Regions from separate parts of the Homo sapiens genome. Here regions 1, 2 and 4 are each reported to be linked to region 3. Evidence: microRNA targets listed by miRTarBase, many of them from high-throughput screens and not tested one by one. Region 3 holds a microRNA gene; each other region holds the end of a gene's coding sequence.
What was found. The annotated mature microRNA hsa-miR-3122 reads GUUGGGACAAGAGGACGGUCUU and lies in region 3 at 2,201-2,222, opposite strand. An mRNA with a match to its seed (bases 2 to 7 or 8) in the 3' UTR can be bound and repressed. Matches are read on the target gene's strand: a 7mer-m8 pairs with bases 2 to 8, a 7mer-A1 pairs with bases 2 to 7 and ends in A, and an 8mer does both.

Region 1: miRTarBase lists TMEM11 as a target of hsa-miR-3122. The part of its 3' UTR that is shown has no 7-base or 8-base seed match.
Region 2: the mRNA of FOXC1 is a reported target of hsa-miR-3122. Seed matches in the 3' UTR shown: 7mer-A1 at 1,191-1,197.
Region 4: the mRNA of PAQR5 is a reported target of hsa-miR-3122. The part of its 3' UTR that is shown has no 7-base or 8-base seed match.

The regions. Positions count from the first base shown.
Region 1 is chr17:21,195,371-21,198,512 of GRCh38, forward strand. It overlaps TMEM11 (transmembrane protein 11), which reads right to left. Exons shown (of 2, transcript NM_003876.3): 2 at 2,584-3,142. The coding sequence ends at 2,954. Among named protein-coding and RNA genes, the nearest start is that of TMEM11, 17 kb to the right of the region's middle.
Region 2 is chr6:1,611,476-1,614,617 of GRCh38, forward strand. It overlaps FOXC1 (forkhead box C1), which reads left to right. Exons shown (of 1, transcript NM_001453.3): 1 at 1-2,422. The coding sequence ends at 632. Among named protein-coding and RNA genes, the nearest start is that of FOXC1, 3.1 kb to the left of the region's middle. RefSeq lists enhancers at 2,152-2,769, 2,770-3,142.
Region 3 is chr1:212,076,702-212,079,843 of GRCh38, reverse strand. It overlaps MIR3122 (microRNA 3122), which reads right to left and starts at 2,231; the gene lies at 2,159-2,231. DTL (denticleless E3 ubiquitin protein ligase adapter) reads right to left here. Exons shown (of 15, transcript NM_016448.4): 12 at 1,582-1,671.
Region 4 is chr15:69,403,259-69,406,386 of GRCh38, forward strand. PAQR5 (progestin and adipoQ receptor family member 5) reads left to right here. Exons shown (of 9, transcript NM_017705.4): 9 at 323-3,128. The coding sequence ends at 564. The region is part of intron 1 of KIF23-AS1 (KIF23 and PAQR5 antisense RNA 1); the gene reads right to left. Among named protein-coding and RNA genes, the nearest start is that of KIF23, 9.5 kb to the right of the region's middle.

The DNA of each region.
Region 1 (3,142 bases), not on the chromosome of region 3:
GAACCTGGGAGGCGGAAGCTGCAGTGAGCCGAGATCGCGCCATTGCACTGCAGCCTGGGCAACAGAGAGACTCCATCTCAAAAAAAAAAATTATTTTTTGGAGACAGGGTCACACTCTGTTGCCCAGGCTGAAGTGCAGTGGTAAGATCACAGCTCACTGCATTCTCAACCTCTCAGGCTTGAATGATCCTCCCTCCTCAGACTCCTGAGTAGCTGAGACCACATTTGCGTACCACCACATCTGGCTAATTTTTGTCTTTTTTTGTAGAGACAGGTCTTGTTATGTTGCCCAGACTGGTCTTCAACTCTTGGACTCAAGTGTTTAATGGTCCTCCTGCCTCAGCCTCCCAACGTGCTGGGATTACAGGCATGAGCTACTGCACTCAGCCTTCAAATGCTATTTCTTGAGAAGTACTGTCGCATATCACAGATGACCATAAGCAACTTGTCAGCAGCTCTGCCATGACTGATCATCTAGCAAGGACAATGGCAGGAACAGAGAAGTCAGCACTGACAGTGGGAAGGGAGGCACATTTCTTGCTGCCAGCCTCAGGCACACGAAACCCCTGCCTGCAGTCCACACCAGCACCTCATCCCCATCTCCCTGGCCAGGGGCCATGTAACTAAGATGGCATTTCAGAATCTAGGTTAATACATCCAATAAGAATCACTTGGTTCAGTGCAGCTTGGGAAATGGTAGAAGAGCTACCCATTTGCAGCTGGATTCTACCTCGGGGGAGGGCTCCTGCTCAGCTGACTTGAGGTTGCCTCGACTTGTCTGGCTTGTCCAGCTTGTGCCTTCTAGTCAATTCCCCCATGAAATCTAACTTGTTGGCAGAGCACTTCCAGGCCAGGTATGGGGCTCCCTTTCCAAACCTGGGCATTATTAAGAAAAAAAAAAACCAAAAACCTGCCCAGCAGGCTCAGATGCCAGCACTCAGACACCTGAGGGGTCATGGGCAGCTGCATTTCAACTCACACTGCTGTCGAGATGAGGCATGTTTTTACGGGATCAGTTGTGTGGCTAAGGCAGTTCCCTCTTTACCATTATTCCAGGTGCCCAGAGACTGCCACGTAAACAGTGGTGCACACCCAACACCGTCATGCCCCCAGCACTCAACTGAGTGATAAGTTATTTCTAAATCTCTTGGAATTAAATCAAAGTTTCTTAAACTTTTTGTGGGCCGTGGGTCCCTTTTAAAATCCTTAAGAGGTGTGAATCTCCCCTACAAAAAATGGCCCAATCACCCCTCGTGAATCCTTCCCATGCACCCTTTCATTACTCTGTGACATCAGGTCTTCCTGATGGGGACTTTAAAACTAGGTGAGAAACCACTTTGGCTGTCTCTTAAATATTGGCCTGGCCAGGCACGGCAGCTCACGCCTGTAATCCCAACACTTTGGGAGGCCGAACCGGGCAGATCACTTGAGGCCAGGAGTTAGAGACCAGCCTGGCCAGCAAGGCGAAATCCCATCTATACTAAAAATACAAAAAGTATCCAGGTATGGTAGCACACAGCTATAGTCCCAGCTACTCGGGGCTGAGGCAGGAGAATCACTTGTACTCGGGAGGTGGAGGTTGCAGTGAGCTGAGATCACATCACTGCACTCCGTCCTGGGTGACAGCAAGACTCTGTCTCAAAAACAAAACAAAACAAAACAAAAGACTGGCCTTCAGAAGGAGGTGCCATGTGGCTCTTCAGGGATGAATGGGGCTTTAGGAAGGCAGAAGTGAAGACAGGCACCCCAGCCTTTTTGTGGAAGAGAGAATTTCCCATTTACCCAAAGCCTTAGAGCAAGCTTGTCCAATCACCAATCAGCAGCCCATGGGCCTCATGCAGCCCACGATGGCTTTGAATGTGGCCCAACACAAATTTGTAAACTTTCTTGAAACATTATTTTTTTGTGATTTTTTTTTTTTTTTAGCTCATCAGCTGTCGTTAGTGTATTTTATGTGTGGTCCAAGACAATTCTTTTTCCAATGTGGCACAGGGAAGTCAAGATTGGCCACCCCTGCCTTAGAGGAAATGTGGCAGGTGACACAGTCTACCTTCTGGTGTGAGGGAGAAGCACCGGCTTGGCTCCTGTGGAACAGCGAGCACTGAGGCCAGGGGGTGCTTCCAAGATTGCTCCGAGGGCTCTTCTGTCAGCCTAGGGCAATGGGTTAATAAACTCATGGTCCACAGTAGGAAGAGTTTTGGTGCTTCAAAGAAAACACAGGTGTTCAGATCTCTGAAGAGCGATCCTGGAGCCCAGAGTTCCCCACGTGAACTCAAGTGGACACCCAAAGGCCTCCAAGCCTCGTCACCTTATCCTACCATGTTCCTGAACAGCATGGTGGCAGTGATGGCCTTCGGAATGATGAGGCCAAGGTGAGCCAGGAGACTGCTCCTGGGCGGGGTTTGGCCCCAGGACTACCTTGGATCTAGGCTTGTCGTCGCTGTAAGTGGTAACACTGGGCCGCAGCTAGGAGCAGGGCAGGGTGGCTACCATGGCACCTGCTCCTTCCATGTGCAAGCCGCCACCCAGAGCAGATGTGCAGCAGCAGCTGCGGGCAGTCATGGAAAGAGAGAACAGCGGGAGTTGAAATTCTCATAATTTTAATGATCAATAGCTTCTGGTGGGCTCTGGATGGTACAGTTAAACAATAGACTTAAAGACCTCCCCCAAAGCACGTCCACACCCCCTCGGCAGCGTCTGCCTCCATCAGCATTCCACTGCCCAGTCGGACTTCCACAGCCTCAGACCCCCCTCTTGGGTTATGGAAATCCACATCTTAGTGTAATGAGCTGAAAAACCCTGGGTACACCCGTGATCTGTTATTTTTTAAAAATAACAAATACTAAGCCAAACACCTGCCCAGGCTCTGCTGCCTCACAGAGTGTGGCGATCTGAATACTCTGTTGTCTCTTGTGGGCCGGGTGGTTTTGCTTCGCTCCCTGTTCTACTGAAATCATACGGCATAGAGTTCGTAAATCTTCTTTACACAGTACACCAGGGCGGCCAGTGCTATCGTGTTGTGCAGTCTCTTTCTGTGCAGGTCGTCCTTCCGGACCAGCACCACCGGGGTGGAGGAGGTGAGTGTGTGCAGAGGCAGGCGCGACAGTTTATAGGCGTCGTACTCCACTTGGTACTTGCAGCA
Region 2 (3,142 bases), not on the chromosome of region 3:
TCGCACCCCCGCTGGCGCTCGGCGCCTACTCGCCCGGCCAGAGCTCCCTCTACAGCTCCCCCTGCAGCCAGACCTCCAGCGCGGGCAGCTCGGGCGGCGGCGGCGGCGGCGCGGGGGCCGCGGGGGGCGCGGGCGGCGCCGGGACCTACCACTGCAACCTGCAAGCCATGAGCCTGTACGCGGCCGGCGAGCGCGGGGGCCACTTGCAGGGCGCGCCCGGGGGCGCGGGCGGCTCGGCCGTGGACGACCCCCTGCCCGACTACTCTCTGCCTCCGGTCACCAGCAGCAGCTCGTCGTCCCTGAGTCACGGCGGCGGCGGCGGCGGCGGCGGGGGAGGCCAGGAGGCCGGCCACCACCCTGCGGCCCACCAAGGCCGCCTCACCTCGTGGTACCTGAACCAGGCGGGCGGAGACCTGGGCCACTTGGCGAGCGCGGCGGCGGCGGCGGCGGCCGCAGGCTACCCGGGCCAGCAGCAGAACTTCCACTCGGTGCGGGAGATGTTCGAGTCACAGAGGATCGGCTTGAACAACTCTCCAGTGAACGGGAATAGTAGCTGTCAAATGGCCTTCCCTTCCAGCCAGTCTCTGTACCGCACGTCCGGAGCTTTCGTCTACGACTGTAGCAAGTTTTGACACACCCTCAAAGCCGAACTAAATCGAACCCCAAAGCAGGAAAAGCTAAAGGAACCCATCAAGGCAAAATCGAAACTAAAAAAAAAAAATCCAATTAAAAAAAACCCCTGAGAATATTCACCACACCAGCGAACAGAATATCCCTCCAAAAATTCAGCTCACCAGCACCAGCACGAAGAAAACTCTATTTTCTTAACCGATTAATTCAGAGCCACCTCCACTTTGCCTTGTCTAAATAAACAAACCCGTAAACTGTTTTATACAGAGACAGCAAAATCTTGGTTTATTAAAGGACAGTGTTACTCCAGATAACACGTAAGTTTCTTCTTGCTTTTCAGAGACCTGCTTTCCCCTCCTCCCGTCTCCCCTCTCTTGCCTTCTTCCTTGCCTCTCACCTGTAAGATATTATTTTATCCTATGTTGAAGGGAGGGGGAAAGTCCCCGTTTATGAAAGTCGCTTTCTTTTTATTCATGGACTTGTTTTAAAATGTAAATTGCAACATAGTAATTTATTTTTAATTTGTAGTTGGATGTCGTGGACCAAACGCCAGAAAGTGTTCCCAAAACCTGACGTTAAATTGCCTGAAACTTTAAATTGTGCTTTTTTTCTCATTATAAAAAGGGAAACTGTATTAATCTTATTCTATCCTCTTTTCTTTCTTTTTGTTGAACATATTCATTGTTTGTTTATTAATAAATTACCATTCAGTTTGAATGAGACCTATATGTCTGGATACTTTAATAGAGCTTTAATTATTACGAAAAAAGATTTCAGAGATAAAACACTAGAAGTTACCTATTCTCCACCTAAATCTCTGAAAAATGGAGAAACCCTCTGACTAGTCCATGTCAAATTTTACTAAAAGTCTTTTTGTTTAGATTTATTTTCCTGCAGCATCTTCTGCAAAATGTACTATATAGTCAGCTTGCTTTGAGGCTAGTAAAAAGATATTTTTCTAAACAGATTGGAGTTGGCATATAAACAAATACGTTTTCTCACTAATGACAGTCCATGATTCGGAAATTTTAAGCCCATGAATCAGCCGCGGTCTTACCACGGTGATGCCTGTGTGCCGAGAGATGGGACTGTGCGGCCAGATATGCACAGATAAATATTTGGCTTGTGTATTCCATATAAAATTGCAGTGCATATTATACATCCCTGTGAGCCAGATGCTGAATAGATATTTTCCTATTATTTCAGTCCTTTATAAAAGGAAAAATAAACCAGTTTTTAAATGTATGTATATAATTCTCCCCCATTTACAATCCTTCATGTATTACATAGAAGGATTGCTTTTTTAAAAATATACTGCGGGTTGGAAAGGGATATTTAATCTTTGAGAAACTATTTTAGAAAATATGTTTGTAGAACAATTATTTTTGAAAAAGATTTAAAGCAATAACAAGAAGGAAGGCGAGAGGAGCAGAACATTTTGGTCTAGGGTGGTTTCTTTTTAAACCATTTTTTCTTGTTAATTTACAGTTAAACCTAGGGGACAATCCGGATTGGCCCTCCCCCTTTTGTAAATAACCCAGGAAATGTAATAAATTCATTATCTTAGGGTGATCTGCCCTGCCAATCAGACTTTGGGGAGATGGCGATTTGATTACAGACGTTCGGGGGGGTGGGGGGCTTGCAGTTTGTTTTGGAGATAATACAGTTTCCTGCTATCTGCCGCTCCTATCTAGAGGCAACACTTAAGCAGTAATTGCTGTTGCTTGTTGTCAAAATTTGATCATTGTTAAAGGATTGCTGCAAATAAATACACTTTAATTTCAGTCAAAAACTGCTCTACGTGGCCTGTGATTCGCTCGGTCCCCTCCCCCAGGGTCGTAACCTAATCGCCGGGAAGATCGCAGCGGCGCTGGCGCGGGTGTCTCCTCGGGGCAGGCGGGCTGGGGGTGGCCTCACGGCCCCGTTTAAATCTCGCTGGGCTGTCGCGGCGCTAGGTCCCGGGGCTGCCTCCAGCTTCCTCGGGTTACAGCCTCTTTCGGGGCGGGGGAAGGGGAGGGGGTGACGGTAGAGACTCCACCGCCAGTCTCCAGGAGTTTGGTGTGATCGCTCCACTTTGGGGAGCCCGGCGAGGAGCTGGGATTTGCGGACAAAGGGCCCGCGGCCGGAGCTGGGGTGTCGAGGCCCGGAAGGGGAGCTGCAGCAGGTGACTCACGGCCCTGTCCCCACGGGCGGGCTGGCCCAGCCCGAGGCGGAGCAGCTCGGCCGCCGGAGACGGTACCGTTCTCGACGTGTCCGGTCGGACTCTGTGGAGTAGGGGGTGGCGGGTGGAGACCCGCGCGGCCCACGCCTGGCTTTCCGGCTGGGGCGTTTCTCGCAGGCCCGGTCCCTTCCGAGTCGCGCCCGCCCCGACGCCGGCCTCCTGGACGCCGCTCGCGACGGCAACGCTCTCCAGCTAATGAGCTGTAATTACCCGCGGCGGCGCGGGGCCCGGCTTCGGTTTGCGTTTGGAGCTCCTTCCTCCCCACACCCCCCTCCCCAGATTAGCCCCGGC
Region 3 (3,142 bases):
TCTTGGCCCCCAAGAGACTGGCAGCTTTTTCCTTTCCTTACTGGGAGGCCAAAAGAAGATACACATATTTAACTGTTCAATATGAAATGTTTGGAATCTCACAGTTCTTCTATAGTTTATTAACAATAGTTATTTGCAGAGCACCTACTATGTGTCTGGTAGTTTACATTCTTTATCTTATTTAATTCTCACACTCTAAAAGCTTTGTACTCAAATAATCTCATATGCAAAATGGGAATAAAGTTATTTGCCCAAAGTAACCACAATCAAATGGAAGAGCTAGAATTTAAACCCAGCTTTCTCCTATTCCAAATGCCAGACATTAAAAACACAAAAACAACACAAACCATATTTTACTTTCCTAATTCTAGGCTTGGGATGAAATTATTTTTAAGACTTAAAAAAGTAGCCAATAAATTAGTATAGGTAAACAGCCCTGCTATTTCCTTTGAGCACAGGAAATAAGGATAATTAATATATGATGTTTGAGATGCATAGGGGTAAGGATAATATATGACAATTGAAAAAAAGATAACATAATTAACTGAATAATTCAAAAATCATTCAACTTAGTAAGTCCCATGAAGATGCAACCCTCCATGTTAAAAGAAATTACATGGAATCTCAGAGGAAAAAATATCATTAATATGTAATTTTGGGTGATTAAAGTAATGACTTAAAAAAAAAGAAAAGGTCTGCCATGAAGTTGAGCACAGAAATGGTAACAATAAGGAGAAATCCACAGCAATACTGGAAGCTAGCAGGGATGCCACAAATAGACCAGACCATGAGAAGTTTCTGGAAGATAAAAAACAGATGGGAACAATAGGCAACAAAACCTCAAAACGTCATACGTGAAAGGGGAGACCTCCACAGAAATAAGATTTCCTGTAGAACCCAGAATAACTCAAAGACCAGAGGCAATGGGGTTTGGGAGAATGACTGGAACTTGAGCTACTATTATATGCAATTCCAATAGATACATAGTTTTTAATGTTTCTGGCCTTTCTACATTTTAGGGTTTTTTTGTTTCTTAAAGTGTCACTATAAAAAAATTAAAAGGTGGGCATATTGTCTTCTTTCTGGAGTATCTAAAACATTTCAGACCTACTTACATAGTTTAAGCAATAGATAACCTAACATGTTAAGACTTCACAGTTACCATTTTGTTAGCCATATGTGAAAACCCAAATTGGGCTGTCAAGATGTTACCTTTAATATACTACATTGATAATATCTAAAAAGTAAAAAAGACTAGTTCTCACCTTAGATTGTATTTTTATCTTAGATTTTAATAGAAAATTTTAATTAAGTTAACAACTTAATCCTACATTTAGGAAAGAAATAACTGTAGGGAACCAGAAATCTATCCTTATTTCACAGGGCATAATACCATTATGGTATGGGTAGAGAAAAGCAGAATATGCCTGAGTAATGTGAATATAGATCCTGGATGGCCTTTAGGTCTTTAAAATCTCAACTTAAACATAAAAATTTATATCATTCTCAAAACAAACCTTAGAAAAACCTACAAACCTGTGATCTACATTTTAAACCAACTATAGAGATTCATTTACAAACCTTTGTGAAGTCAGATGGACACCAGCACACAGACGTGACCTCTTGAGAATGACCCAGGAGCACAGTAGGAGGTTGCCAGGGTGTGGAGACCTAGTCCAATCAAAAACAAACAAGTCAGCAAAGCAATATTAGATTTCCCAGATAGAGGCCTTTGAATTCAGAAGTGTGTCTTAGAGAGCTTTAGGATTGTTACCAAAGGCCACTAGACCTGCCTAGCTATAGTTAGGAAAAAAAAAACAACAGATTTCCAATGGGCAATGAAATATTTCTGTTACTAATCTGAGAAAACACAATGAAAACAGTCAAAATAAGTAAATAACATGAGCTTACACACAAGGATAGTCCTTATTTCATATCAGGACAACCTAGCCATATATATTTTGACTAAAATTCAAGACTGGCATTGTCCCTTATTCCTTAGGTGGTAAACTTTCTGGAAGGATGTTATCCATCCTTAAGTAGTCAACTCGACAACTCAGTCCTGTTTTTACACAGCATATATATCTTCAGATCCCTAGTCAGCTACTTCTAGGAACACTAAATTAACTGTGAAACCTGAAGATTTCTGAAACATGCTACCAGCTCTCTTCGGACAAGATGATGGTCTTCCTTCCAAAAGAAGACCGTCCTCTTGTCCCAACAGAGCTGGTCACTAACTTTTACAAAACCCAAAGTTATACTCCTTCATTTTGAGTTGGATAACCTTCATTCTGAAGGGGTATAAACTATATTTTACATGGCACTTTGGTATCCTTTCTGAAAAACATTTTTTTCCTCTAAAACTATATTTCAGTTAATTTTCTGAGAGAAGTTTTGAATTTTCAAGTAAGTGTCACTCGCATTTTAATATATTTTAATGCAGAAAGAAGGGTCACATTGTACTGTCCTGTACATGTGACTAAGAATCATATTTTTCCATCATCAGATGCCACCAGTTATGTACATTTGACAGCATCATACAGCTGACTCATTCAAGAGATGTCAATCTCTTTCATAGGCCATGGGAATTAATCAGCACAATAACGAGTACAAACACACATAACTATTATTAGCATGTGTGTTTCAAAAGAGCAAGGAGGTTGGGGCTGAGAGAAGTTATTCTCTTTTCATTTTCCTGAGGCTCTGAATCATGGCTCATTTGTATGAAGAAAGTGGAGGTGACTCTGGAATGATTATTTGTGAGAATGACTAAGTAAACTTAATAGATTCCCCCAGATTATGGTTAAGAGATCTGACACACTGACTGATAAGGTTATTCAACTCAATCATTAATACTCCTCTCTTGGCTTAAATGGTACATATGCAATAATTAAAAAAGCAAAAGAAGACAAAGAGCAGAGTCTAACTTGTCTTGCAGAGTTAATTAAAATTTATCAGAAAGGAAGCTTTTTCCACATCTACAGGAATCTCACTTACTGCCTACTCCTACAATGGCACAGAGATAATTCATTCTTTCACAATGTAACATATTTTAGAAAAGACTTTGAAGATCGTCTCTAACTATCCCAGTAGTCACAGAAATTTTCCTTTCCTCCTCTGTTTGGGATGGCCCCAGTCGATT
Region 4 (3,128 bases), not on the chromosome of region 3:
TCACATATTCAATAATTCTCTAATGTCAAGTATACAATTTAATGATATTTTCAGTAAATTCACCATACATCAGTTTTAGAACATTTTCATCCCCTCCATCAGACCCATGCACTGTTAATACCTATTCTCACCCCCTGCTTGAGGCAGCCTCTAATCTACTCTCTGTCTTTATGGATTTGCATATTCTGGAGATTTTATATAATATGTGGTCTCCTGTCTGGTTTCTTTCACTTAGCATCATTTTTAGCATGAATGCCATAGCATGTATCAGTACTCATTCCTTTTCATTGCTGATCTTGACGGCCTTTTGTGTTTGCCATAGGTCACAGTCACCAGCTGTTTCACGTGTGTGTGATCCTGGCCACGCACATGCAGATGGAAGCCATACTTCTGGACAAGACTCTGAGGAAGGAATGGCTCCTGGCCACCTCCAAGCCCTTCTCTTTCTCTCAGATAGCTGGAGCCATACTTCTGTGCATCATCTTCAGCCTCAGCAACATAATTTATTTCTCAGCTGCTCTGTATCGGATTCCCAAGCCAGAATTACATAAAAAAGAAACATGACTCAGACCATAAGCTTTTCATGCCAGATGTCAACATTAAGCTGCAACATCCTAACCACCATAAGCCGGAGGTGGTTACAGCTTATCATGGCCTAAAATATTCATAATGGTTGGTGTCTTTTGAATGAATTCATGTCAAAAATGTTATTCAGCTGGGGAAATTTCTCTAAATGTACACTGATTCTGTGTGTGTGATTTTAAAAGGAGAATATGGTTCAAGCAAGTCCTTGTTAAGGCAAACTATTGATATTTCATTAATTTTAAATTTACTTAAAATGTGGTTTTAAATTCTATTTAAACATTTGGATTAAGCATATTACTCTGGAGCTTTGTATTATTCTTTAAAAATGAATCTTGCTTCATTTGATGAATTTCATGTCACAAAGCTTCTCTCAAGAGCTCTCGTAGTGGCCTGTCAACCACTTTCGGAGAATGAGCCAGGTCAGTCACTGGGAGGACCTGTGAAAGAAAGTTGGTCACTGAGTGCCTTGGGGACTGGCAAAACATTCCAGAATGAAGAGAGCTGTCTGGGGAGAGCCCTTCTTCCCTTCTCCACCTAGTGAAGGGAGAACAGAAGGGGAGTCCTCTCTTCCCACAAGTCCATTCTGCCTTCAAAGTGTAAGTTCTCATGTCATTATGGATTTGGAGTTTGTCAGTTTTTTTCTTAAAAGTCCACAGCGGGGTGTCATGTGTTCTGTTATGTTCTGTTTTCTGGTTGCCAGTTTGATCTGCAAAGTATTTTTCAGTGCAGGTAAAATGTGTTAAACCATAAGAGTTGACTGAGTTAATCCCAATTGGTTGTGCTCATATGCCACCTTTTAAACCAATGGAAATTGCTATATTTGGGGATGTCATACATTTGATATTGCTTCAGCATTTCAAATATGTTGCAAAATTTAGTATCCATATGCATAAGAAGTTAATCACCTTGCCAGTGGGGTGGTCACATATAGTGTTCTCAAGCTTTACTGTGAATCAGAAACATCCAGTAAGCTTGTGACAAATGCAGACTCCTAGGGAAAACCAGGGGGTTCTGCTTCACTAGGTTAAATGTAGGTTTTGTAGAGGAGATCTGCACTGGAGCAAGTCTCCCAGATGATTCTAATACAGGAGGGCCAGAGGCCAAACTTGAAGAACTGCTGGTGTTACATGTTCCAAAAGGCATTAGACCTATCAGCTTTGTTTCGCCTGATCTCAAGTTTTAGCAACTCACCAACTAAGGCGTAACCTCATTTTATGTTCCAGCGTTTTCTACTCTGAATAGTTCTAAAACACTGAGCATTTTCTCATTTGTTGCATTACTGATTAAAGTTCAGTATTTCATGGTGTTTTCAGGGAACACAGAAATGCGGATGCAAAACAACTTTTGACAGAGGCCCATCAAACCCAGATCTGCACTTGGTAATGACTTAGGGGGGCTTCCTCACAATGCAGGATCCTCTTTGCTGACTCAGGAATACTCCATATTTTAGACTACTGCCTCTACCATTAACTAGCCCAGACATTTGAATGGCCTTGTAAACAGCTCACTGTCTAATACTCGAAGGACAAGTAACAATTTATATTGGATGAGAGTGGTCAAGAAATATGATTTCGTTAGTTTTATTATCTGTTTACTTCCTCTGGGGAAGGCAGACTGATAAAATTATATGGGCTGGTAAATTTTTGGTACATTAATTGCAAGCTGCATGACAAAATTTGTTTTTCTGGCAACAATCTGACATTATTAGTGGAATTCCACACCAACAGGGCTTGTGAGCTTCCATTTCATCTTACTGTAACTTCAATTTTATGGCAAAAAAAGGTACAAAGTTTAAATACCCCTTTCTAGTAATGCCAAAGACATACAGTGTTTTACATTCTCTCCTTTATAGGTAACAAAATAATGTTTAGCTCAGTAAGTACTGAAATAATGAGTGACCAATTTGAAGGATTTTTAGATTATTTAATCTTTGCTTATGTTGCTTTTTCACATGCTTAATGATGGAAATGAAATGTTAAATCAACAAAATAAGATCCAGTGTTTCATAACATTTTTATAAGTTTGGTAAACTTTAGTCCCATTATATACTTTTGGGGACAGTGTTATAAATCAGAATTTTACGACAGTTTGCAGAACACTGATTTGAAAGCTTCCTATGCAAAATGAGAAGGGGTTCAAATATATTAATTATCATTAAGTATTAAATAATAGGCATTAGATGTCTAATGTGAGTATAATTTCATCCAAGCCATCTCAGAAAGTCTAAAAGGTTGGCAGGGGGTCAGCTGAAGACCTCACTGGAGTGGGTCTTAATTTTTAAAAAGTGTCTCACTACATTTAAGACATGTGACACATTCCCATTGGTAACAATTGCTCACCATGGCATTGTCTCAAAAAAGACTATGGTGGGGAGGGTGGCACATTCCTAATGGGATGTACCTCTCCCCACTCCCCTTGCTTGAGAAGCACTACTCAAAAATTTACCAGACCTTACAACTGTGATAAAACTTGAATGTGTATGATGAATAAGGCCATTCAGTTAACTTTACCTCCCTTTACCCATTGAAGGGGTTCCTTTTCCA